Linked DNA regions of Homo sapiens: regions 1, 2, 3 and 5 are each reported to be linked to region 4. The links are microRNA targets in miRTarBase. Many come from high-throughput screens and were not tested one by one. Region 4 holds a microRNA gene; each other region holds the end of a gene's coding sequence.

Region 1 (4,000 bases), not on the chromosome of region 4:
TCTAGGATAAAGTTTGTTGAAGCTCCCTACGAGGTGAGTGGCTGCAGAAATATTGTTCCTCTTGAGGGTTTAGGACAAATACTACCAATTCCAGCTTTGTCTTTAGAAAGTAGGCAGAATGGGGAACTTTCTTGAGTAGATGTGTATCAAGACAGTTGTTTTGGACCAACACTGTTTCCTATGGATGCCTTCTGACCATGAAGAAATGATTCTCAATTGTTTTCAGCTGGAAATAATAGCATCTTCCTTAGGGGACATTTGACAATGTGGGGTCGTGGTTTTTATTGTCCCAATGACTGACAGGGGTGGCTACGACTGGTATTTTCTGGGTTGGGGCTAGTGATGCTAACATCATGCAGGGCTTGTAGCAGTTACATACTACAAAGAATCATCTTGCTCAAAATGCTAATGTTCCCTCCCCATCCCCACTCCCAAGAAATATTATAGTCTAGTGCAAAGTTCAAAAGCTTATCATGGAAAATAACAAAGTTTCTGGGCCTTTCTGGAAGGAGGAAATGTTTACAGACTATTGGAGCTAAAGAAAAGGACGGGAAAATAGAGAAATATTCTGACCTTTAGTTTTCCTGCTTTTCTTTGAACATCTCTACCATGAAAAACAATAAAGTCACGATAACTCTTTTTCCATAGATCTAATCTGATGGAATCTTCAGTTGCAGAAGAAGTGAACAGAGTGGATACCCTCTCTACTCTCCTGTCACTGTAAAATCAGTTCTATGGAGAGAAGACTTCTTCGTCCTCATTTACCACCTCCCTGATGGTTGCAAAGGCTTGGGAAGGCATGTTGGAGTCTTTGACGGCAGCATGATCTATTTGGCTGGGGCATCTTACCTACCTTTTCAGTCCCTGCATTAATCCCCTCTAGGAACTCTGCGTGGATCGTTTGGAAATGTGAATCTCTTAAGTATTTAATTTTTTTGGTATGTCTAATTTATGAAGTCTTGCTGGGAAAGCCAGTGAAGTCTATGACTAGGAAACATTTTGTTGTACATTGTGCTGTGTGTGTGTATATTTTAGTGTTGTGGTGAAGTTATTTTCCAGGTATGTCCTAAGCTTCAGGGATCCAGTTTCTTGTCCTTCTGAAATATATCTGGTTTGTTTGGTCATTTTGAGACTTCCAGATGCCCTACCTCTGATGTTGAGGGCCACTTATTTCTCTCCTTATTCTTTCCCACCTGTACCTTGGCTACTTCCAAATTGTAGACAGAATGAGAAAGATTTATAGTGGAAGACTGAGTTAGCCATCCAAGCATTTTCATCTCTCTTGTTTTATATCCTATTTCCTTAGATTTTCCATCCATGTCTATTAAGTGACCACAAGAATAACTATATTCCTATCACAAGGGGAGCAAGAGGATGTAGTCTCAGTGACCCATCTCTGACCAAGTCCACATGTTGTGTTATATGTGGCTCTGATGGTTCTGCCAGTCATGATCTTTTTTCTGTGGCGACATCAGAAGTGTATGTTTGCATGCTGTCTTCAACTTAGAGGAGAACTGGAAGTCAGGAGCCTTTGATGTCCTTATCCTGCTGTATGTCTTCTCTGCATCTTTTTCTATAGGGCACCCTCCTTAGCTCCCCTCACTCTGTTTTCTCTTCTATTCAGGGATATGTTTCTGGACTTTTTCTTCTGCTACTTGAGTCCAGGATGCAACCATTTTGTCCTGCATCTCTTCTTTCCTGTAGAGCCTTTGAAGCATTGTATTTTGGGAAAATTCTTCTGTAAATACTATAACTTTTATAAATGGTTAAGTTATTTAGAATTATCTCCAGTGCTTACTTCTCCCTTCTTCTGTATAAATCTGCTACTTCAATTAAGTTCTCCTCTAAACTTTTAGGTCATTGTTTATATAGCAGAAAATTCAATGTTAGCGGATGGAAAACTGCTTCTTGAATAACCTTGATAGGTCATCCCTGAGTGCACCTCAGGTTCTCTCTTTACCTGGGCTTGTATCTTTTTTTTTTTTTTTTTTTTTTTTTTGAGACAGAGTTTTGCTCTTGTCGCCCAGGCTGGAGTGCAGTGGCACAATCTCGGCTCACTGCAACCTTCGCCTCCTGGGTTCAAGCGATTCTCCAGCCTTAGCCTCCCAAGTAGCTGGGACTACAGGTGCCCGCTACCATGCCTGGCTAATTTTTTTTTTTGTATTTTTAGTAGAGACGGGGTTTCACCATGTTGGCCAGGCTGGTCACGAACTCCTGACCTCAGATAATCCACCTGCTTCTGCCTCCCAAAGTGCTGGGATTACAGGCGTGAGCCACCATGCCCGGCTGGGCTTGTATCTTTTAGCTTGTGTTAGTAAAAGGATTCTAGAAAATTATGAAGTCCAGATTCAAAGGGATCTCTGTTAATTACCCACTGACAGGCATTATGACCTAACAGGAGGTTGGTAGCAGTAGATCCAAGCATGCATGTTGCCTGGCCTGTAGATTGGCCTTATCAGGTTTCTGGGTGCCTCTGCCTTAAGATCCTGAAGGCAAATTTTGTTTCAACAGTTTGGAAGTCATCTGTGGGTCCAGCTTGACTTTGGAGGAATAAGAAGATACTTCTAGAGTATGGGAATGATTCCAGATAATTTCTGGGATTTGAATCTACTTGAGTTTAAGGGCCTGGGACCTAATTTGGTTTAGTATAGAATTTGAAGAATTAATTTATAGGCAGCTGAATACCCAAAACTTGGGTGGTGGTCCTGTGGTTTGGCTGAGCTGTCCGGGCATAACCTGGTTCTCTGTTATGTTAAGGCTTTCTGGGAAGCCAGCCACTCTGCGCAGGAGTGAAACATGAAGTTGTTTTCTGAGGACCTGTTTTGGTGGGATTGTTTGGGCAGAGGACTGTGTTTATGCAGGGCAAATCCCAGAAAGATAAGAGGAAGCTAGAGAAACTTAATGTACCTGAATTCTTCATGGTGTATTTGCAAACTAACTTAACATAGATTCTTTTGACTATGGTAAGTTTGAATCTCTCCTTGCCAAACAACATTATAAGTTTAGTTTTCTTCTTCCTCTTGCAGCCGGTACAGAAAGGTGTAAGTGGTGGCTGAAAATTGAGGAAGCTTCATCTGACCAATGTGGGTGCTGGTTTCTTGTGAAATGTGTCCCTAAGCCTCCTTCTCCTTGCAGGCAGCCACCCACCCAGGTGTCTAAGATAGGACATGCTCCTTTCTTTCTCTAATCCCATCCTGAGGTTGCCGGCAAAGCCAATATGACCACTACTGAGAAATAGTAATGACTTCTACAAATGCAAGGGTCTTACCCTCCTCTTTCCCTTAAACACCCTCCCTTTTCCTTAGACCCCGTTTTTGCCATCCCCCAAATGTGTGGTATGGTGAAACTAATCCCCTGAATGTGAATTGCTATCCTTATTGCCCTATTAAAGAAGAGCCAGCTGGTATATTGTCAGGAAGCACTATTTAAAATGTGAACTGTTATAGAGTAAATAAATAAATACTCTACAGGAATACACTTGTGTGCCATTCTCATTCGTCTTAGTCATCAAGGATGGTTTGTTTCCCCATATGGAAAAGAGAACGGGCAAGTAGATGGGTGGCATTCTTTTTTTTTTTTTTTTAAGTTCTAGGGTACATGTGCACAACGTGCAGATTTGTTACATATGTATACATGTGCCATGTTGGTGTGCTGCACCCATTAACTCGTCATTTACGTTAGTATATCTCCTAATGCTATCCCTCCCCCCTCCCCCCACCCCATGACAGGCCCGGTGTGTGATGTTCCCCACCCTGTGTCCAAGTGTTTTTATTGTTCAATTCCCACCTGTGAGTGAGAATATGCAGTGTTTGGTTTTCTATCCTTGCGATAGTTTGCTCAGAATGATGGTTTCCAGCTTCATCCATGTCCCTACAAAGGGCATAAACTCATCCTTCTTTATGGCTGCATAGTATTCCATGGTGTATATGTGCCACATTTTCTTAATCCAGTCTATCACTGATGGACATTTGGGTTGGTTCCAAGTCTTTGCTATTATAAA
Region 2 (4,000 bases), not on the chromosome of region 4:
TGCCTTTTCCTATTCATCTTATTCCCTTGTTTGCTCACAGCACAGATTGTATAAAATCTTGCCCATTTATTTTTACAGTCTCTGCTTTTTGTCATATATAAACAAAAACCCAGCTTAGAGGTAATGTCTGCAGAAACACAGCATATTTACTTTTTTAAAGGAACAGTCACGTATCACTTTGCTTCTTTTCAAGATAAATAAAAGTAGAGCAATTTGTCTGTCTTTTTTTACTTTAATTACTGGATGACAGAAAGAATGAGATCCTTGAAAATTCCAAACTGCTTTGCTTTGCAAACTCTAAGAATAGTTGGATTTGCTTGCCAGCATAATTTGTTGTGAAACATACACAGTTATATAATGGATCTTCTTCTTTAACAGAGAAAATGTGTTTCTTAAAATACTTAATTATATAATTCTGGAAAGAAAATTATGCTAAAACTTTAATAGAAGAGGAAGAAGCAACCCAAGGTCCATAATATGGAAACACTCATGTTAAACTGTTCATATTTTCTTCTTCTCTTAGGTTTGCTCAATTCTTATTTACCGAGGAATTCAAGGCCGGTTCTCGGGTCCTTGAAAGTATATACAGCTTGTATGAAGGCTTCTCTGGGACAGTGTGCTTTCTGATTGACCTGCTGCAGCCCAATCAGGCTGAATTCCCACTCTTCAGCGTCTTTGTTTAGAAGGCTCTATCTTCCACTGTGGCCCTGCAGAGATCCCCTGAGCCAAGCCGAGGCAGTTTCCACATAAGCCACATTCAATGGTATCGCAACCATGAGCCTTAACATTGCCATCAGAAGGAAGGAATCAGGCAGGTGAAGGCAACATGATGCCAGATTTGAGAAAGGATCTGCAAAATAAAGATACCACAATTCATCTTAAAACTGCAGAGATTTAATGTGTCAGGGAATAGATGTGAAACAAGGGATCATAGGAAAAGGGGAAAGAGAAATGATCTGTTTTTCAGTTATGACATAGAAAACCAAACTGCAAGTGTAGACTATGACAAAAAATACACTAATACCTTTGCAATCTGAATGAGAATTTGACCATTTGTGTGTGCCCTCTACCCTTAAATTCAGAAATAAAGACAATAAAAAATTAAAATAATTGCCCAGCTGAAAACTGCTATGAGGAATGGATTGTCAGGTTGCTGAAGTATAAAAATAAACTCTTGGTTGTCCTGTGCTTATACTTATTGAAATTTATGGTTTTTACTGAGCAAAGATATTTGCATATGAATCTCTATTTTTTTCATTACCCTGGGCAATTTAAAGAAATCATATCATAGCGTAGTTCAGATACTAAAATTTGAAGTTTCCTTAGGCCCTAGAACATCTCTTTTCCTGGTTCCTTTTTTTTCCTCAAAGCTCAATTAGAATAGCAAAATTTATAAGCTAGTAAACTTATACTATAGCAAGTGTTGCTGTAAAGTGTTTTTCTCCATAGGAAGTGTGAACTGTGTATTGTCTATTGTTAGTAATTTTAAAAATGCCTTTATGTACATAATCTTGATGGAGCTATTAGCTGAACTATAAAATATGCTCTTGGTAAATATCACTAATTTCAAAGATCAGGGGAACCACTACAAAGACGTGTCATTTCTGCCTTTGTTTGGGACAGGCAGACAGGCTGAGGAAGTCACCAGTGATTGTGGAAATAATTTTGCTCCATTTTATACTATTAAATGAAGAGATGAGTGAATTCTGTGGTTGGTTACCTTACCTTCCAAGATACAGGGTCCACTAGAAATTGGCTGTAATACTCATTGAGCCAAGTTGTCATATCAAATTCAACCCTGCTGTAAACACATAGAAGTTGTGAAACTGCTTCAAGTAAATAGTGGTTTGCAGAACACTGTAGGAGCATCTGTCACTTCATTATGCAGAGCATAAGTTGATCCTTTTCCTAGAATTTTGTCAGTGGCAATTGCATATATCAGATTGAGTAGGAAATTGTGTACTGTATAAGACTTATTTAAATAGTCATTAAATATTTGGATATATTATGTGTGTGTGTGTGTGTGTGTGTGTGTGTATGGTGTGTATTCCATATCTATTCCCATGTAAATCCAAATACTTATTCTTTATTTCAGTAATTCTTAACTTGAATCATAGACTTTGGAACGAGTTAGGGAATGCTCTGTTGCCTAAAAAGCAAACCTACAAGTATGTTGGTGTGTGTATGTGTATGGACCAGTTTGTTTGTGTGTGTGTGTGCTCATTTTGAGGGGACAAGGATCTCTAGCATTCATAACATTCTCAAAGAATCTGACCAAAGAAAGGTAACAACTATCTTTGTGTATTTTATGACTGTGTGTGTTTGCACTCATTGCAATAAAGTAGGACAAAATGATTTTGAAATGCATACATCTTTTCAGCTTCCTGTTTCATTTTTACATCCTCAGATACAACCATATCAAATTGGCCTCAGTTGTTCATCAGTGAAAATGCTCAGTTTGGGGTGATACCACATAAATAGCAGCTTTCAGATGACTCCCCACATTGGGTCCAGAAGTTCTTTCATATAGGCTGAATATAATAACCATCCTATATACAGAGCTTTATGGAACACATGCAGTTTTTATCGTCCAAGAACCCCTCAAGATGTGTTTGGTAAATGCTCCAAAGTCTTACAGCTAGAAAAGGACAAAACCAGGATTCAAACCCAGGGTTTCACTTTCTAAGTTTATTTATTCAGTATTCTAGACTAGAATCTGGGGATACAATAGTGAACAAAATAAACTTTCCCTCAAAGCTACCTTCTGTTTCCATTTGCTGTTCCTTTCACAATTCATCCTTGAGACCTGAAACCTAAAGCACTCAGAACTGATACTCTAGTTCATTATCATATCAGTTCCATTTCTAGTAACTTCAGAAAAACAAGACCACTTTCAGGCCTATCTGCCCTTTTAAGTTCTGATAGGTCTGATGATGATGTGCTAACCATTTTGATTTGTGTGTCAAATCTAAGCAAAGACCATGTTTGAGTATTGTCTTTATGAAATGACATTTCGGTAAATTAGAAACAACAATAGGCTTGTTTAGCCCTTAAACATGTTGATGAAACTTTTCATTTTCCTGAAAGAATTATAGATTTTGGAAGGTCCTCTTCTATATTATTTTTCCAAGAAGGGGAAAACGATTCTTACATTTTGCTGTAGGAAAGTGTGGCATGTTACTTCTTATTTAATTATCCAACTTGCCCCCCTTCTCTGTGGTAGCATTTTTAATGTAGTACTTAAGGCTGTTGTCTCTTAAAGGCTACAGGGGCATTTTCACCACCACTAGTATAACTTTAATATTATTTACTATATACAGCATGAGCAATTATAAACCCTGAAGGTAATAGTGGAAATGTTTGAGGATACATTGAAATAGTCTCTCAATAATGGGGAGACTGCATTATGCTTTGATAGCAAGACATTTTGGAAACCATTACAACTCTGTGTATTTTGTTTCATTAATGTAATTACATACCATCTCTTCCACACACACCCCAGAATATTATACATTTTTATTTTGCCCAAGCCTGTTTCAGTCATCAGTTTGTAGTCTTTTACTTCCACTTGTAACTTGATAACTGAGTAGAACAGGGGTTTGCTAGAGTATATTTCCCTGTGCTTCTTTAGGTAGTTGACTATGCTATTAAGATAACAGTATTTGCTTACTGATAACTTGAGAAACAGTCATTTTCTTGGTCTGTGCTAAATTGCATCTCTTCCAGTGGCAGCTTATTTCTTTAACTTTTTTGACATATTAAGATTTTAATCATGGTAATACTGAAATTGTTTCAAATTTGAAAGAGCGAACCTCAGTAACTTCAATGAAACAAATGGGTTTGTGATTTCTAGCCATGTTAAATGAACACACAATTAAAAGGAAAACCATTAGTGGTGCAAAGAGCCCTGTGCTGGAAATCTCAAAGTCTTGCTCTGCCACTTTTAGGGGCCACTGTAGTAATAATAATAATCACCCTGTCTACTTCACAGGGTTGTTAT
Region 3 (4,000 bases), not on the chromosome of region 4:
AACAGCTGGGCTTGAGGATCTCACATAGGCCCCTCTCCTGGATCCTGGAATGTGCAGTTGGCATGTGCTCAGGAAACCTGTGAGCACTGGCCATGAGCAAAAGTCCAGATGCCCTTTTTTTTTTTTTTTTTTTTTTTGAGACGGAGTCTTGCTCTGTTGCCCAGGCTGGAGTGCAGTGGTGTGATCCTGGCTCACTGCAACCTCCACCTCCCGGGTTCAAGAGATTCTCCTGCCTCAGCCTCCCAAGTAGCTGGGATTACAGGCACCTGCCACCTGTTATAACAGTATTCTCTGTAATGATCTATTTTAATTTTAATTTAAAAAAACTTTTTTAGAGATGAGTTCTCACTATGTTGTCTAAGCTGACTTTGAACTTCCTGGCTCAAGCAATCCTCTTACCTCAACCTCCCAAGCAGCTGGAACTACAGGTGTGTCACTGTGCCTGGCAGGAGTTTATCTTGTCCTGCTTCATGGACTGTAGTGTCCAGGGGTACCTAGAATTGTTCACTTACATGCTGGGAGCAGTGTCAGGGCATGGTGTCAGGGAACTCACCAGGCAGTGTTCTTTTATATAACAATGCAGCCTTTTTTTTTTTTTTTAGACAGAGTTTCAATCTTGTTGCCCAGGCTGGAGTGCAATGGTGCTATCTCAGCTCACCACAACCTCCACCTCCTGGGTTCAAGCGATCCTCCTGCCTCAGCCTCCCAAGTAGCTGGGATTACAGGCATGTGCCACCATGCCCGGCTAATTTTGTATTTTTAGTAGAGACAGGGTTTCTCCATGTTGGTCAGGCTGGTCTTGAACTCGCGACCTCAGGTGATCCGCCCGCCTCGGCCTCCCAAAGTGCTGGGATTACAGGTGTGAGCCACTACACCTGGCAACAATGCAGAATTAAAAAAATGTAACAATACAGAATAGTTAACAGCAAATCTCCATATCTGGTAGAGTTAATGATCATAACTCTTAAGATCTTACATTTTGCTTTTATTTTTAAAAAGTAAACTTCTAAAAATCTTATACACTGGTATGTGTACCCATGAGTAGAGCTATATTATGCTTTCTTGTCTAATTACAGGGATAAATGAAATATGATTGCTAATAGTACATGTATTTCCATTCAAGTATATATCCTAACATAACCCAATATAACCATTTAATATATTCTCTAATACAATATTATTAATTTTAAAGTAAAATGGTTCTGATCATTACTGGCCTCCTCTAAGAGTACATGACAAGTACTTAAGTAGTGGGTAGAACTGAAAGTGAAATTCCTTAATGTCTACAATTCCTGGAGCCCTCTGCATGCAAGTCTTCAAAATTATGGTGACTTAAGTCCCACACCACCTGTTTTCCCAGCAGTCCTGCAACAGGAGCACTTATTCCTATTTCATAGTGTGGTCTGGTGGAGCAGAGCAGTGTGGTCCCCAGGAAGGGATGAGCTGCTTTGGCTTTCCAGAGCACTCACTGGCTACATGACCTTGGGTATTCCACCTCGTTTTAAAAATGGGGCAGATAATCCTCAGGAGATTGCAAGAAGAATCAGAAAAGCTGTGCAGAGCAGCTTTGTATTATAAACACTAGGACGCTACCTACATGCTGCAGGTCCTAAACTAGTGCAGTGCCAAGCAGCACACTGGGCCTGTGGCCACTGATGTTCACAAGGCCTCATGGTCAATGGAGCTTCTGCATCTGAGCGAGCCAGTACAGATATTCATTCAGGAGCTCCAGGAAACTGGATTTGCTCTCTAGAGGGCAGCTCAAAGGGCCCATTCACTCACAATCCACCCAACGGCATTCCTGGCCTCCGGTCACAGCCTCAGCCACGGAAGTCCTGCAGGGTTTGCCAGTCTGTGGGGGTGAGTGCCCTAACACCATGAACTGCCCACTGCTCCCAGAAAGAAAGAAGAACTTGGAATATGAGACTCCCCAGGTCTCCTGACCCTCTTCCTTCTTGGAATGAGACCCAGGTAGTGCTCAGGGGATTTCTGGTGTTGGCCATGGACAAGCAACCAGTAGTGGGCTCACTTTAGGGACGCAAACCACAAAGCCCACCTCAGGAAGCCAAATTTCAACTCTTGCCCCTGGGGCAAACTTCTAGCAACCAGGCCAGAGGCAAATGTCAGACAGGATAAGGGATGACATCCCATCAATCAAGTTGAAAATGGGAGGGACCCAGCAGTTTGTAATAAAGCCATAAAACTGGTACTGACTCTGGGTGAGAGGGAGAGGCAGGGTGGTGACTAGAGAGCTGGTTCTGTGACCTTGGGAAATGGTCTCACCCCTCTGAGCCCTGGAGATGACCTGATGGGGCAGCTAGGAGGTCCAAATGGAAGGACTGCAAATAAAAGGCACTGGGAACTCTCAGGGGCCACACACATGTGAGATCTTCCCAATAAAATCAGCCTTAGCTTTAAAACCAGGAAATTGTTAGCAACAGGCTCTCACCTTCCTCCAACACCCACAGCATTGCCTATCTCCCTGTGATAGCTTGATTCTAAAGATAACAGCCTGCCTTTACTCAGAAACCAGGACTGTGACGTGTTTTGCACACATTCTCTTTTCACTTTCACAGTGTGTGACTATGGCATGCAACTTATGTTCTCTGTGCCTCAGTTTACTCAAGTGTTAAACAGGAATACTCACATGAGGATTACATGAGTTAAAATGGATAAAATGGATAAAAGTAGAGAGTAAATTATTTAAACTTTATCAAATCCTTGGTACATGACCTTAATACAATTAAGTATTTGTTAAATACATACATTTTAAAGAAACGTCATCATATCCACACACCTATGAGGCACCTGCCCAGGACCACAGAGCCAATCAATCAGGTGATGAGTGATTCCAGGCCAGCAGGAAACCACCGCCCACTGACACAGGGACTGCACCATCCATCCTTGGTTTGCATGGTGCCTGCCATGCTTCCTGTATTACTGTTAAATACATGGGGCAGGCCTTTGGAGGATCCCAATGTTTTAAAAGGGCAATACGAATATGATTCTAATACATAAAAAGTATGAGGGCAGCAAGAATTTAGTTACAAAACCCAAAAATCCTCAAAGAGAAGCCACATAGCACTGTGCAGTGTTACCACTGCCTCGAGTCTGGACAGGGCACAGGTGACCGAGACAAGTCTTATTTAACTGATTTCACAAGAAGGGTCCGAGTTTTATTAGACAACCCATGTCAAGGTACAAAATGATTAATGACAATATCAGCCATATTCTATTAGCCAAGTGCCACCTGTCACTATGAAACTATCCTGTAGGACATCCCTGGGCTCTCAGTTGCTAATGGGCTGCTGAAGAAATGAATGTCCTCAAATCGAGACCCTAACACAAAGAGATTCCAGAGAGTGGCTTAGAAAACCCAGCTACTCTTACCAATGTGGGGAAAGGGTCAGGGGAATGAACCTCTGCAGGACAATTTGAATTCCCAAACTGAGTAAGAGCGAAACAAATATGCAGGCAAGGCAAAGCCTCAGGGGGGCTCCTGGGTCTGGGGCAGGGGGTGGGAGACAGGAGAGGCAAAATGGCAGGGACTTGACAGCAGGTTCCTCTTGTCTACTTCTTCCTCCCGCCTCTCTCCTTGAGGGCCAGGTGGATGACTGCGCCATTGGCCATGTTGTAGTAAGCCAGTGAGTTGGAATCTTTGATGAAGATACCCTGGAAAACAGACAGCGTGCCTTAGCATGGGGCAACCCAGCCTTGGGGATACCGCTGCAACCTTACAACTGTGCACTTGGTCTGTTTGCGCTCTGGACTTAGCAAATACAGGAGCTTGTGAGAAGGTAGGGTGTTGGGGACTGGAGGCCTCTCATTCCTCCCACTGTTTCCTTTCTTCCCACCAATTACGCTCCTCCCCTTTGTCAACATTTGACTCAAAAGCTCAACTCCCCAAAAAGTTGGCCCCTCACCAACTCCATGGAGCTCTGACTCTGAAATCACAAGACCTTTAGGGATCACTTAGCCCAACAGCCTCAATGGATAGAGA
Region 4 (4,677 bases):
AACCTCTGACTGTGGCCAAGAGCCTTCTACTAGCAAATCACTGGCTCATTTCTCTCCAGCAGGGCCTGGCTCACAGCACCTTCTGGAAAGCCATTACAGCAGCTACAGCAGCACGCGCAGCGTTAATTTATGAAAATCTCAGCTTGTAAAAGCCCAGCTCGCAGGCAGAGCCGGAGGAGGCAGAGGCACTCTGCACTGGAGATGCATGAACTGCTATTTGCTTCTCTTACAGCCACAAAAGGAAATGCTGGCGAGGGCTTCAGAGAAGGGGTGGTGGGGAGGGGACGCTGCTGGATTTAATAGGAGGAATACGAGTCATTTGTCTTATTGTAAAATAGATGTGTGTTTGGAAGCAGAAAATGCTCTGGATCCTTTCTTTCCTCCCCTTGCAGGCATGAAAAGCCTTGAGCAAAACAAAATGCTGCTGATTTTGAGTCTATTTTGGGCGCCTGTCGCTGATTGTCTGCTTCCGAGGCCTGTGCACATGCTGCCTTCTCAAAGAATGGTTTTAACAAATTGAAATGGAATGAATGAGCATCTTGCTCCTGCTGCTGCTGCCACCATTGGAACAGAAAGCAGCCCCCAATAGTGGGGCCTGGTCCATGGCTCCTCAATTCTTCCCTCTCACCCCAGATGCCCACCCAACCCACACCCCCATCCACACAGTGCTTGCTGGCTCCCGAGTTAGGCTGCTCACCCCATGCCAGGAAGCTATTTACCAAAGGAAATAACTGTGATAAAAGGGCTAAAAATAGGCAGCAGTGATGGAAAACATTTTGTTGAGAGATCTGCTGACAAGAGGGGAAACAGAGCTGTGAAAAAGATAGGTGGTGAAGGACACAGAGGGAGAAGTGGCTACACTGAGCATCTAGGGGGCCCAGGAGGAGCCGGGGTCAGGGCCCAGAGGCCAGGTGGCTCACACAGATGGCTGCGCCCTCGTGGCAGATCTTCCCTGTCAGCGGCCCTACCCTTGTGGTATTTCACCCAGCCTTAGAAAAGTGAAGGGGCACGAGCCAACAGGTTCCTTCGCCAGGTGGGTATCTGAGGACAGGTATCTGAAAAGCAGCCCCATGAAGGAAGCAAATAGAACGCTGATGGAGGCTGACCACACATTTGGCTTTCGCCAGTTAGCAACACACGGACGTTGGACAAGCTGCTTAACTTCTCTGAGCCTCAGTTTCCTCATGTGATAAATAAAGATATGCTTAGACCCACGTCATAGGGCTGTGGTGATAATCCATGCACACTATTTACCAAACAGTGGCATTATTCCGGTCATTCAGGCTTTTACAAACATGGATTGAGGGCTTTCATTGTGCAAGGCACTTCCTGGAACCCAGGGATTCCTTGAAGTAAAAGACAAATTCCTGCTGTAAGATACTTTAATTCCTTAGTGAACAAGGAATTAGAGTAGAGAAGGGGGAGCTGTCCTTAGAAATATATAACCAGCACCACTCAGCCTAAGACAGCCAGATGGAAGGACCCCAGGACACCTTCCCAGGCCACAGACACATCCATTCCATCCAATGCTGTGTGTCTGCTATGCACTGTGTACTGAAGAGGGAATGATGAGAAAGGCTCAGGGTTCCCTTCTGAAGCCCACAGACTGGTAGAGAAGACAGGGAGGGAAACAGATATATGTTATTCACGTGAAAAGGACCATACAGAATTAGGTTTAAGAGCTCTCTTTGGGAGCAGCAGATCTTTGAAATTTCCAGGCACCGGAATGTGTAAGTTTTACAACAAGCTAAATATATACAAGTTAATCATATTCATGTATTTGCATAAATTAATAAACAGCAATTATATATTATAGCAATTTCTAAGTAATATCCCCAAATAACTATCTCAATATACCAAAATAGTAACAATGGTTATTTCTGGGTGGTGGAATTATGGGTGATTTGTATTTCTCCCCAAATTCTCTACAATTAGTATGCATTATTTTTGTAATAGAAAAACAAACAAATGAAACATGAGTAAGAAGCGAGTGGTTTCAAAATACCCTGCAGATGGGAAATCTGTTCGCTTGCCTTGGATTCAGCTGAAAGCCTCTCTATGACTTCAAGAACCATCAAAAGTTTGAAGTAGCTTGAAAACAGGTTTTTGCATCAGAATGCGGCAAGGCTGCCCAGTCTCTGGCCAAGTGGGTCTGATCCCTTACCTGTTTATTTTGTGGCTGAGGATCAGAAAGGAGTATGCTAGCTTGGAATGGAGAGTGTAGACAGAGGAGGACCCATTCCACAAATGGCTGTGTGCAAAGGGCACTTAGGCCTGGATTTGAGCACTTTTTCTGCCATACACTAGATGTGAGATCTTGGGCCAGTTATTTCACTCCTTTGAGCCTCAGATTCCTCACTCTGTATGACTTAAAAAAGCCATCCTGAACCACCCAGGCTCAACTGGGCATCTATTAGAGTCCACACCGTAATCTGCTCAGCCCTCTGTGTTACAATGGGCTACAACTTAAAACTAGGGAACACACCTTGTCCACAGCTGTGATTCCCTTACCTCTCATAGTGCCTGGTACAGTGACCTTCAATACACATTTGCTGAATGAATGAGATGCCAAAGCTCATGCTAGGTCCTGTAGCTGCAGAGATGAACGACATGGATCCCTGGCCATCGGGAGCTCCCACTTTAGTTGGAACTCAGTCTCCCCAACACAATATAGATGATGACCAATGCCTTAAAGGGCTTATGTGCAAAGAGAAACTAGAAGAATGGGGAAGAAAAGGTGAATTTCCCCAGGGGTGTCTGAGGAGGTACTTGCATAGGGGGGTAGAATCTGAGCACAGTCTGGAAAAATGAGTAGAGCTTCTCCTGCGGGTACAGAGACAAGGCAGGCAAAGGTGTGGAGTGGAGCAGGAATGTGCACAGCAAGGAAGAGGCAAGAGCAAGGCTAGGGCCAGGCGTGGAGCACCGTGGATGGGTCTGACTGGCATTCTGGCTGCTGTAGGAGCCCAGGCTTAGAAGGAGAGCTGATGGGCTCCTTTCTCATTGCAATGGCAAGAGCAAGCATCTACCGCCTGTGCTAGATGCCAGCCTCGCCCAGCATGCTTCCACCTGCCCATCAGGAGGGCAAGGCAATAGGACCAGTTTGGGGTTAATCACTGCTAAATCTAGTCTGCTGCTAAGAACCCCTCTAATTTAAACCAGCATCTGTGAGAAGGGCCAGCTTTGGCAGGGGCCTTGAGGAATGTGGACATGATTAACCTCTGCCAGTTGCAGCAAATTAACTGCAAAAAGAACATCCTGGCAGCACCCCGGATCTTAAGTGCAGCCAACCCTTGAAGATGCAGGCTGATTGCTTTGCCTGGGCTGGAAGTGCAAAGCTGTGTCTTTACTGGGCACTTCCCATTAGGAAGTATAGGGGCACCAGCTAAACTCCATCCCTCCTCAGGGCCTTCACCTGTGCTATTTCCTCGGCAGGAAACCCCTTCGCCCAATTGAGTATGGTTGGCCTGTTCTGATCTTTCAAGTCCTGCTTCAAATGTTGTTTCCTTTGTGATGTCTTCCCTGACTCCCCATCTAAGGTGGCTTTGCTATTCTCCCCACACTCATCACTTTCTGTTCCACCATTCTATTTTCTACTTTTCAAAGAGTTTATTTTCTTGCATGGTTGTTCATTTCCTTTCTCTCTACCTAATTCTAACTGGACCTATGCTCCACGGTAGCAGGAACCTTGTCTTGCTCACAGCTGTATTCACTATGTTTGGCACTTAATAGGTGATCAACAAAAATAAACGGGATGGAAGGAAGGAAGTAAAGAAGGAAAAAGAGGGGGTTTCTAATACAATGGCTCCAAAATGTCCACCAAAGCACTTAGCCCCACTGCCCTGGGAAGATGGCTCATTACCCATGAGCCCACGGAAAACCTATAGGCCAGGGCCAGGAGTGTTGGAGCCCCAGGGACAACACAGGCCAGGAATCTGATGCTAAAGGAAGAATAAGGGACTAGGAAGGGAATTAACATTTATTGAGCACCTACTGCTCAATAGTGCCAGGCCTGTGGTTACTGAATGAAACCTCTCATTTTACAGATGAGGGGGGCTGTAGCTAATAATAAATCATAATAAACATAAAATATCTAACATTTATTTTTGCACCTGGGCTAATCACATTGCATATATTTTCCCAACAAGTTTGGGAGGTAAGCATGATTACTGCTCCCATTTTGTAAGCAGTGGGAACCAGGAATGCTCAGTAACTTGCTCAGTTTTATACAACTAGCTAGTGGCAAAGCCAGGATCAGAACTCAAGTCTTTCCAACTCTTGTCCAACATCCTCTTTTGACAGAAAATGCCCTTCACACTATCATGATGGCTGGTTTGGCCCTGCCTTGCAGCCAGCTCTCCAGGGAAGTTGCTGGAAGGAGCCCTGCCCCAGGCCATGGTTCTAGGCAGACTTCAGACAATCCCCAGTCATCCACCAGCTGCTCAGCAGGCCAGTAAATTAGCCTGCCACCCCCAAGTGCTGAAAGCACTTGGGCCGCCTGACACAGCACCCTTGCCAAGAGCCTCCCACAGACACAGGCAGGTGAGGAGGGATGGGCCTTCTAGCCCTGCAAAGCAGCCAGCTCAGAAACCACCCAGGGAGGCCTCCCTGACAGGCTGGGTACAGGGGAGGGCTCAGGCAGCACTTTCTGTCCAGGAGAAGAAAGCACAGTCCTCAGGC
Region 5 (4,000 bases), not on the chromosome of region 4:
TTTTTAGAGTGCTAGAGGGATGGGCCCTAACAAAAGAATGTTGAAGGCGGACAAGATTTGGGTGTCTGCTCATTGTGCGCCAGGGCTGAAGTCATGGGAAGAAACCCCGTGAGGCTCAAACGCTGACCTGTAGGGAGAAGGACAATTTTCTTTAACACTTACAATGATGTTCTTATTGTTGGTAAAAGGTGCTTAATACATTGCTATCAAATGCCTTTTGGGGGATGGGGCTTTTCAGAAAAAAAAAAAAGCACTCATTCAACCCAAGGAACTGTATAGTAAAGGGGTACGTTTCTCAATTTTAACTTACCATGTATCTTTGAAAGGTAGAATGATGTGTTCCAAGTTGCTTTTATAAGGGGAAGCTTGGGTCATCTCCTTCCTAGCAAGGACATCTTGCTATTCAACTCACAATTGTCACCACTCCTCTTGTTGACACGGTTTCATAGCACTCTTCGTTCCAGGCTAAAGTTTCCTGTCATGATTTTTGGGCATCCTTTTTGAAACAGTTAGACATTCTGACCTGGCAAGCTACTGAGACCTTTTAGGATAGCTGGACTGTAGATAGAAATCTTCCAGGGAAGTAGGTGTGGGCAGGATGTGTGGTTTCCCTGCCTCTCATTTGAAGACTGATTCAATTAATTTTTTCATGAACAGTCTCCTACAGTAAAAGTTGCATTCAGAGTGTTCTAAGAGAAACTGGAAGGGACAAGCTAGCTACTCATCTTCTTCAGTTTGAGTTGGGACTGGCGCACTATCTTTCTGAATGTCACAGAAATGCACAGCAGGGAAATTGTGCCACCAGCCCCCTCTGCTAATGGGACCTTGAGGACTCAAATTAGCCATAACAGTAACACACAGCAGAGCATGCACTTGTTTACCAGAGTAATCTGAATGATCAGGAAGATGCAATAACACATGTCTCAGCCTGGCTCTGAATGAGTACACAGCAGCCTGAACCTATGAAAGATATAACATTTCTAAACTTTTGGTGATATAACACATACACATTCTTTCTCTGACATTCCAGGCTAACCACTGTCTTAAGTTAAGGCTCTGCAAAACATCTGGGACATATGTTTCTGGAAAAAATTATAGCATCTTTTCTACAATTCTCTCTGGTCTGATCTTTGTTAAGCTCTGACCTGACAGAAGCCTCTGCAGCAGGATTACCTGTGGGGGCCCAGGGAAGCTGCCCCACAGCACAGAGAGGCATTCACTAAACGCAGTTCACTTTCCCTTACCATTCATTTACCTAGTGCCACTCAGGGAACAAAGTACAGAGCAGAGAAAGCCTTAAACAGCAATAAAATGCAGATGCTGTTGTCCCTGAAAAAATCACTTTCTTTCTAGAACAGTCAAGGCTTATTTCACCTCAGCCCCTGGTTGTATGATACTAATACGCTCTGATACTCCAGGGAAGCAACCAGTGACTGAGATTTGAGGATTAAAATCAAAGCACAATGAACTATCATTTGGCTGCCCCAGGCCCACTAAATCCAGACAGCAAAGTGTTCTCACCATTCTGAGACACCTTCGGCTACACATTTCTCCAGCCAAAAACCTAGGAAGATGTCCGGCTGACAGATGCGCCTGTTACATGATTCAGAGAAGACAGTTTTTTTGTTTTTTTTGCTTTTTTTTTTTAAAAAAAAAAAAAAGAAAAAAGGCTGGATCAGCCTCAGGATTTTAATCTTACATGATCGTGGATAATCATGTCTCTTTTCACAAAAATTCAATCACTTCACTAATCACTATTTATTAGATTTATATCATACTTATAAAGCAAAAGATTTAAGAGGAAAAAACCTATATATACTACAGGAGAGAATCTTCTCTTTTCTGTTTTTTATTTTGTTTTGTTTTTTTTTTTTTTGGCTGCTTTGTTAAAGAAGCAGAGGTTAGAGGGAAGGAAATGGAATTCCTGTTTTTGAGGAGCTCCTGGGCCAGGCACTGCACTAACTATTGTACTTCTATTCCAGTAGACATGGCACCACTAGAAACACAGTCTCAAGCAGGACCAGCGAAAGAATTCAGAGGGTCTAAAATATAAGTTCATTGTTTAAAAAAATATTCAGAAGTTCAAGAGAGTCACAGCAGAACATTAAACCAAGTGGAGGCCCTCTTCAGTGCAGAACTCTGTGTGACTGCACAGGCCACACACCCGTGAAACTGGCCCCACTAAGAAGTCAGGTTTACCTGAACTTGAATTCTGGCTTTGCTACTTACTACTCATGTGATCTTGGACAAGTCATCTGTAAAATGGGAATAATAACAGTCCCTACATCATTGAGTTTTGTTTTTTTTTTTTTTTTTTGAGACGAAGTTTCACTCTTGTCACCCAGGCTGGATGGAGTGCAATGGTGCAATCTCGGCTCACTGCAGCCTCTGCCTCCCGGGTTCAAGCGATTCTCCTGCCTCAGCCTCCCGAGTAGCTGGGATTACAGGCATGTGCCACCACGCCTGACTAATTTTTGTATTTTTAGTAGAGACAAGGTTTCACCATGTTGGTCAGGCTGGTGTCAAACTCCTGACCTCCAGTGATCCACCCGCCTTAGCCTCCCAAGGTGCTGGGATTACAGGTGTGAGCCGTCATGCCGGCCTAAACAAGAGATTTTAAAAGATACTCTGTATTAAGGCCAACTACTCAAAAAGCAAGACTGAAGTACAAAAAATGATACTGGTTTATGCTCAAGGTTCTGGAGGCTTGTGGAGTGCAAATTGTCATGAAGCCAATTTAATATAACTGCTTCCTTTATGCTGAAAGGATTCACTGGGGACATCACTGTTTCCATACAGGAAATAAAGCCTTTTGTATCTGAACCAAAACTCAGAAATACTTTTTTTCTCTCTTCTTTTACAATGCAGAATACTTTACAAAAAAAAAAAAAAAAAAAAAAAGCTGTAGGACAGGAAATATTACTAATCATACAAACTCTATATTTAGTTCTGTAAAAAAAATACTACTAAAACAGCCAGAAGAAAATTTGCAGGTAGTAATACATATTTTTATCTAGAAAAGAAATTTGGTTTACAGAGGCATAAACATTTAGTAGTTACGTTTATCAATGTTTGTTTCATAAGAGAAGCCTCAGTTTCTTCACTGAGTCATCTGTACATTTTTTATTCCTTACCATCAATAATTCTCAGGACTGTCAGACGCCTTTACAAGAAACATGTAGGGTTTTTTTCCCCCCAATTTGAGTACATACTACTGTTAACTGCAAAATTCTAAAGAAGTCAGTTGCCATTTGTCAAACAATTCGCCCAAGGTACACCGATTTGGGATACTTTTCTTTCAGAGCCGGCCACTGAACAATGAAGTAATCTGAGAGATGAAACAGAATCTTTCCGGACATGGATAACGTTTCTACACGGCAGATGCTTTCAACGTAGACAATGATCACTTTCTTTATTCCTAGTATCCCAAGGAGAAGGGCAGATACACAGATAGGAACACATGTTCCTGGTCCGTTACACAACACCTGAAAGAAAAAGTTGAAGGTCAAATGAAAATACAGAATAATAATCTAAGGGAGGCATTTTGCATTAAGAACAGCCTGATTTCAGAGGGGATCTGCTTATGATTCTAATAAGTCCTTCTCTGTCAAGAACCAGGATGCAGCAAACAGCGCATGTTTAAGCCCATGCACTTTGGAGCCAGGCAGAGCTGTGTTGTCTTGGCTCTCTTGCTTACCAACTGTGTGACTCAGGGCAAATCACTTAACTTCTAACTTCTAGCACAGTTCCTGGTGCTCAGTCAGCACTCATCGGACAGGCATGTGTTGCTCTTCTCTGACTGCTCTGTGGACCTTGAATGTCACATAAAAATACAGAAAACAAAATCAACTGAGATTCACTGTTTTCTTTAATGTACCAACTTATTCTTGATTTGGGAGAAAATATCTTTAATTGACTATGAAGATTTTTTTTTTTTTGAGATGGAGTCTCGCTCTGTTGTCCAGGCTGGAGTGCAGTGGCGTGATCTCGGCTCACTGCA

Evidence for each region. Region 4 holds the annotated microRNA hsa-miR-4486 (GCUGGGCGAGGCUGGCA, at 3,040-3,056, opposite strand). A microRNA usually pairs through its seed, bases 2 to 8, with sites in the 3' UTR of a target mRNA and lowers its output. Matches are read on the target gene's strand: a 7mer-m8 pairs with bases 2 to 8, a 7mer-A1 pairs with bases 2 to 7 and ends in A, and an 8mer does both.
Region 1: the mRNA of FAM234B is a reported target of hsa-miR-4486. Seed matches in the 3' UTR shown: 7mer-m8 at 2,021-2,027.
Region 2: the mRNA of LANCL3 is a reported target of hsa-miR-4486. The part of its 3' UTR that is shown has no 7-base or 8-base seed match.
Region 3: the mRNA of SF3A1 is a reported target of hsa-miR-4486. The part of its 3' UTR that is shown has no 7-base or 8-base seed match.
Region 5: the mRNA of ALG14 is a reported target of hsa-miR-4486. The part of its 3' UTR that is shown has no 7-base or 8-base seed match.

What each region holds. Positions count from the first base shown.
Region 1 is chr12:13,079,977-13,083,976 of GRCh38, forward strand. FAM234B (family with sequence similarity 234 member B) reads left to right here. Exons shown (of 13, transcript NM_020853.2): 12 at 1-33; 13 at 649-3,473. The coding sequence ends at 654. GSG1 (germ cell associated 1) reads right to left here. Exons shown (of 7, transcript NM_001080555.4): 7 at 3,556-4,000. Among named protein-coding and RNA genes, the nearest start is that of GSG1, 22 kb to the right of the region's middle.
Region 2 is chrX:37,675,131-37,679,130 of GRCh38, forward strand. LANCL3 (LanC like family member 3) reads left to right here. Exons shown (of 5, transcript NM_001170331.2): 5 at 524-4,000. The coding sequence ends at 683. Among named protein-coding and RNA genes, the nearest start is that of XK, 8.7 kb to the right of the region's middle.
Region 3 is chr22:30,331,024-30,335,023 of GRCh38, forward strand. SF3A1 (splicing factor 3a subunit 1) reads right to left here. Exons shown (of 16, transcript NM_005877.6): 16 at 965-3,672. The coding sequence ends at 3,571. Among named protein-coding and RNA genes, the nearest start is that of TBC1D10A, 6.1 kb to the left of the region's middle.
Region 4 is chr11:19,573,693-19,578,369 of GRCh38, reverse strand. MIR4486 (microRNA 4486) reads right to left here and starts at 3,060; the gene lies at 2,998-3,060. It also overlaps a transcript of NAV2 not described here.
Region 5 is chr1:94,979,822-94,983,821 of GRCh38, forward strand. ALG14 (ALG14 UDP-N-acetylglucosaminyltransferase subunit) reads right to left here. Exons shown (of 4, transcript NM_144988.4): 4 at 1-3,485. The coding sequence ends at 3,255. Among named protein-coding and RNA genes, the nearest start is that of CNN3, 55 kb to the left of the region's middle.